Linked DNA regions of Homo sapiens: region 2 is reported to be linked to region 1. Evidence: microRNA targets listed by miRTarBase, many of them from high-throughput screens and not tested one by one. Region 1 holds a microRNA gene; the other region holds the end of a gene's coding sequence.

What was found. Region 1 holds the annotated microRNA hsa-miR-3135b (GGCUGGAGCGAGUGCAGUGGUG, at 977-998, shown strand). A microRNA usually pairs through its seed, bases 2 to 8, with sites in the 3' UTR of a target mRNA and lowers its output. Matches are read on the target gene's strand: a 7mer-m8 pairs with bases 2 to 8, a 7mer-A1 pairs with bases 2 to 7 and ends in A, and an 8mer does both.
Region 2: miRTarBase lists POFUT4 as a target of hsa-miR-3135b. The part of its 3' UTR that is shown has no 7-base or 8-base seed match.

Annotation. Positions count from the first base shown.
Region 1 is chr6:32,747,799-32,750,949 of GRCh38, reverse strand. MIR3135B (microRNA 3135b) reads left to right here and starts at 971; the gene lies at 971-1,038.
Region 2 is chr10:73,775,326-73,778,325 of GRCh38, forward strand. POFUT4 (protein O-fucosyltransferase 4) reads left to right here. Exons shown (of 3, transcript NM_173540.3): 3 at 216-894. The coding sequence ends at 360. Among named protein-coding and RNA genes, the nearest start is that of POFUT4, 4.6 kb to the left of the region's middle.

The sequences.
Region 1 (3,151 bases):
TTTGCTTTCCTTTGTTATTATTAGTTCCTGCATACACATTCTTTATAGTTGCATTCCTGAGAGGTTCTTACAGTCTTGGGCAGGCCTTGGACAGGGTTTCCTAAATGTGATAAAAATGAGAAAAACTGAAAAACTAACATAACTTCAAACAGAATGCTTGTCTGCCTATGTTTATGGGACTTTCCTGAATACATTTAAAAAAAAAACCTTTGTATTACAGAAAATTTCAACTGTGTGCAATAGTACAGAGAAGAATTCCATGTATCAACAGCCTTGCTTTAACAATAATCAATTCATGAGCAATTTTGTAAACCCACCCAGTTATCATACAGGCACATACTGGATTATTTTGAAGATATTTTTAGGTATCATATTTCATTTATACATTTTTATTATGAAAATCTAAAATATAATGGCTTTTTAGAAACATAACAGCAATGCCACTAACACATTTAAAACGAGATAAATAATTCCTTAATACACTCAGTGTCAATTTTTCTGATTGCCTCATATAAATTTTTTAACAGATGTTTTGTTTGAATATGAATCTAGACAAAGCTCAGCGTTTGGTTACTATATTTCTTCAGTCTTTTTCAAGTGTATAGCTTTTCTTTTCTCTATTTTTAACTTTTTTTGCAAATTGTTTGCTGGAGAAATCTTTTTATTTAATCTAGTAGAACTTCTCATATTCTGAATTTTGTTGCTTACATCCTTGTGGTGTCATTCATCATGGGATTTTGTCTTGGACTCCAGAAAATAACAATAACACAAATTTGTTAACTTCTATAAACTGCTTACTATGGGCCAGACTGTGTGTGAAGTGCTTTATTTGTAATGTTTAATTCTTCATATCTCTAGTTTGTATGTGGTAAGTACAAACCTGAAATATTTTACGTGATTTTTACGTTTTGTAATTTTTATTTATTTATTCATTTATTTATTTATTTTTAGAGACGGGGTCTCGCTGTGTTGCCCAGGCTGGAGCGAGTGCAGTGGTGCAGTCAGTCCTAGCTCACTGCAGCCTCGAACTCCTGGGCTCAAGCAGCAATCCTCCTGCCTCAGCCTCCCTACTAGCTGGGACTACAGACTGGTCTCCATCTCCTGGGCTTTAAGGGACCCTCACCTTGTGCTGAGATTACAGGCATGAACCATTGTGACTGGAAATTTTGTAAAATTTAAACAATGTGATATTACCTATTAATGAAGTCATACTTTATGTATGTAATCTGAAATAATTCAGATAACAATTTTTAAGAATCATTTAATTTAAAATCATGCAGCCTGATTTATAACTGTTTATAATAATAATATAATAATATAATAATGATGATTTCACTTTGAACTTTTAGCTGATAAAAAGATATATTTGCTCTATTTTATAAAACTAATTTTAGCTATGCTATTTTAACATTATATAAATACTTTTTGAATACATTCTTTCAGTAAAATCCAACTACCATTATATTTGCTTTCCTCAGTATTTCTTGGGGAAGGATTCTAAATAGGGGAGCATTTGTGTATTTCTGTATGACTCTGGTTATAATGCCATTCAATGTAAGCCTTACACACACACACACACACACACACACACACACACACACACAAATGCACACACCTCCAGAATGCTGGGTTCTTGGCTCATGAATCATTGAAATTTATATAAAATTTATTTTAAATCCTATTGCAGAAAAGTTCTTAGCACATTCATGCATTTTCATGTGACCATTTTTATACTACAGTTTTAATTTTATATATTTGGGATCATTATTGTTGACCTTTTCTTTTCTTTTTTTTTAATAGAGTTTATTTTAGAGAAGTTTTAGGTTCCCAGAAAAATTGTAGAGTACAGATAGATGTATCCCATATGCTCTCTGTTCCCACACATGCATAGCCTCCCCCACTAGTAACATCCTTCATGACAGAGGTACATTTGCTACAACTTATGAACTTACACTGACACATCATTATCACCCAAAGTCCATAGTTTATATTAAGGTTCATTCTTGGTGTTGTACATTCTATGGATTTGGGCAAGCGCATAATGATATTTATTCACCATTGTGGTATCAAATAGAGTAGTTTCATTGCCCTAAAAATCCTCTGTGTTCTGTGATGGACGTTTTCATGATCACCACTGGTTCAGATTCCCTGCACTTACTAATTCCCAGTCTGCATTTATAATTATTTTCTCCCGGAGTCTCCCCACCTCCTCCCCAAAGTAAATATGGATAAACTGCTGTTGCATATAATTCACCTTGACTTAAAATTTATGGGACATAAGGAGGGAATATACCCCTTAGAGAGTTAAAAACCGAAGTCAAATATTACAACTTCTTGTCCTAAGAGTTCTCTTAGCAACCCAATCTCAGCCTCTCAAGAAAGAAAAAAATCCTCCAGTTAACATATGAAAAGAAACTCACTTTTACGTCTACGCTTGAATCTCCTAAATCACTAAAGGGCTAAGGAAAACAAATGTACTTTTCATATAATATGATCCATTCTTTTTAATAAATCCATTATAAACATAACTGCAGTGTTTTCTTATATATTTATATACTACGTGTAAGGCACTGTCTATATACCAAGATTATTCAAATTCTGTCAATAACTCTGCAAGGAAAATATTATCACTCCCACATTGTGGATGAGAAAAATAAGGTTCAGAAATGTCAATCAGATACTTTACCCAGTAAAGTTTAAAATACTAGCTTCAAAATACTGAGTCAAGTATTTGGATTTAGGTTTCTTTGTACAAAACTATGCTGTATCAATTATTATGTTAATGTTTTGTCTCTTTTTTTTCTCCTATTACATTTTAAACTCACTGATGCAGATAGCATGGACAGAAATATCCTGGCAGATTTCATAGCTGTTTAGAGCTCTCAGGTCCCTGTGGACCCATTTCCTCTGAGAGATTTTCTATTAGGAGACCACGAATCCAGTGTAGGACACAGCACCCACTACTGCTGCTACATTGTCTCAACTGTCTTGTTCTTCCTAGGATTTCTCTCTCATAGGCTCATGCTTTCCTTAGCCAGGAAGGGGGAGGAGCAGGGGGCTGGGGCCCCTAAATGGGTCTGTAGCTTCTACTTCTATCTGTTTTCCATTGTCACTAACCCTAAGTAAGGAACAAGCATTTGTTCCTTTTCAG
Region 2 (3,000 bases), not on the chromosome of region 1:
TTGGGTAGTCTGTGTGATGTCTTTGTGTTTGTGACTTACTGCCTGTCGCTTGGGCTTATATTGGATTTACTTCACTTTGTCTTCCTTTCACAGCAGTCTTGTCCAAGTTAGAGACCACTGTATCTGCTTAAGATTTCTTTGGCCCCACTCGGAAAAAGGCAGGACTCATAACTATGCTGCAGTTCCATAATCCAACCCCCATTTTGATATTTCAGTTGGAAAGAGATGTGGCTGCAAGATTATTGGCAAGGTCTGGACCAGGGGGAAGCTCTCACTGCCATGATCCACAACAATGAAACAGAGCAGACGAAATTTTGGGATTACCTACATGAAATCTTCATGAAGAGGCAACATCTCTAAGTGCCCTTGCAAGAGCCTTTAACTTGGCGGAGCTAAGGAGATCTTATTCTACCATGGGACATAAGGAGCATCCACTGCACAAACCCTTAATGAACACTGTCTTTTCATGGATTCAAGGAATTCCAGTTTTATCTATTAAGATTTTATCTTAATGATGAGTAGCCAAGGTCTAACATAGGGCCTCTCCTCAAGGAGAGATGGAGGGATACAATTCTTGGTTCAGTGGGAAACAGAACCCTAAAACATCCATTTGATTCAAGGTGCTGGTCCAACAGAGTTTTTAAACTACTCACTTCTTTATTTCATCCTTTCGACTGTACTTGATTACCAGTGAAGTAAGATGGGTCAGGTTACGACTTACAACTTTTGTTCTATTCCCCAGACTCCTCATTATTCAGTACATTTCCCAATAATCTCTTTTTCTCATCTCTTGCTTTATAAATTGTTACGTTGGTGGAGAAGCAAAACATTTGGTGAGTTGTATTCTGGTTTTCCGGAGTTGGATTTTTTTATATTATATACTTTCATGTCAAACTTCTATTTTACTTATTTATTTATTTTTTTAAAATATTTTTTGTAGAGATGAGGTTTTGCCACATTGCCCAGGTTGGTCTCCAACTCCTGGATCAAGCAATCCATCCGCCTTGACCTCCCAGAGTGCTGGGTTTACAGGCATCAGCCACCTCACCCAGCCCTAATTTTTTTTTTTTTTTTGGCTTTTTCTGGCCAGGCGTAGTGGCTTATGCCTGTAATCCCAACACTTTGGGAGGCCGAGGAGAGGCGACTGCTTGAAGCCAGGAGTTTGAGACCATCCTAGCAAGACCTTGTCTCTAAAAAATAAAAGAATTAGCAGGGCATGGTGGTGCACACCTGTAGCCCTAGATACTTGGGAGGTTGAGGCAGGAGGATCACTTGAGTCCAGGAATTTAAGGCTGCAATGAGCTATGATCATGATCACTGCACTCCAGCCTGGGTGACAGAGCGAGACACCGTCTCAAATTATATATATATATTAAGATGGAGTCTTGCTTTGTCACCAGCTGGAGTGCAGTGGCATGATCTCGGGTCACTGCAACCTCCACCTCCCTGGTTCAAGCGATTCTCCTGCCTCAGCCTCCTGAGTAGCTGGGACTACAGGCATGCACCACCACGCCCAGCTAATTTTTTGTATTTCTAGTAGAGACAGGGTTTCGCCATGTTGGCAAGGATAGTCTCGATTTCTTGACTTCGTGATCCGCCCGCCTTGGCCTCCCAAAGTGCTGGGATTACAGGTGTCAGCCACCGCACCCGGCCTCAAATACATTTTTTTAATGGCCTTGTCTTTCCTGGTTTTAGGCCCTTTTCCACAATTTCTGATGGAAATACAGAAACCTTGCCATCATTCTTACTGCTGGTTTGCATCTCATTTATGGTGTATCTGGGATTTCTTCTCATGAACAGAAAGATTCAGTGGCTGTTATATGCCTTGTCAATTTAATGTATTGCCCTATCCTCTTTTTGATCAAAGATAGAGACTAAGACTGGGAATTATGACAGAAAAAGTCATATTTTTCTTTAAATGATTTTGAAATGTTAAAATAGGCCAATATGAGTCAAAGTGCAAATTTTTTGGTGAGTAGGTTGACAAAAAAAAAAAAAAATCCAGGAAAAAAAGTGCAAATTTTTATAGGTCCTAATTCTTTTGTTTGCCTAATGAAGTGTTCCCTCTATTTTATTGTTTTTATATGCTACAAAGTCCCATCTTCTGCAGTTATGGAAACAGTGTGGCTGTATGTTTTAGTAATTATTTCATAATCTGTAGCACTTTTCACTTTAAGTGCAATGAATAGTCCAGCTTCATTCACTGTATTACTAATACGCTTCCCTATGACTTTTTTTTTTTTTTTGAGATGGAGTTTCGCTCTTGTTGCCCAGGCTGGAGTGCAGTGGCGCGATCTCAGCTTACTAGAATCTCTGCATTCCCAGTTCAAGTGATTCTCCTGCCTCAGCCTCCCTAGTAGTGGGGATTACAGGCGCCCGTCACCACATCTAGCTAATTTTTGTATTTTTAGTAGAGATGGGGTTTCACCATGTTGGCCAGTCTGGTGTCGAACTCCTGAGCTCAGGTGATTCACTTGCCTTGGCCTCCCAAAGTCCTGGGATTACAGGCGTGAGCCACCGTGCCCAGGTGCCCCCACCTTTTTTTTTTTTTTGAGGCAGAGTCTCACTCCATCACCAAGGCTAGAGTGCAGTGGCGTGATTTTGGCTCACTGCAGCCTCTGCCTCCCAGGTTCAAGCAATTCTCGTGTCTCAGCCTCCAGAGTGGTGGGATTACAGGCACGCACTACCATGCCTGGCTAATTTTTTTGTATTTGTTTTAGTAGAAACAGGGTTTTGCCATGTTGGCCAGGCTGGTCTCGGACTCCTGACCTCAAGTGACCCACCCGCCTCGGCCTCCCAAAGTGCTGGGATTACAGGAGTGAGCCCCGTGCCCAGCCTGAGACTACTTTTTGATGGAGCCCACTCAAGGGGATGAGGAGGTTTAAGCCACAAGTGGCTGGCTAAATAAAAGCTTAGTCAGAGCTGGGCACGGTGGCTCACACCTGTAATCCCAGCTACTTGGGAGGCTGAGGCAGGAGAATTGCTTGAACCTGGGAGGCA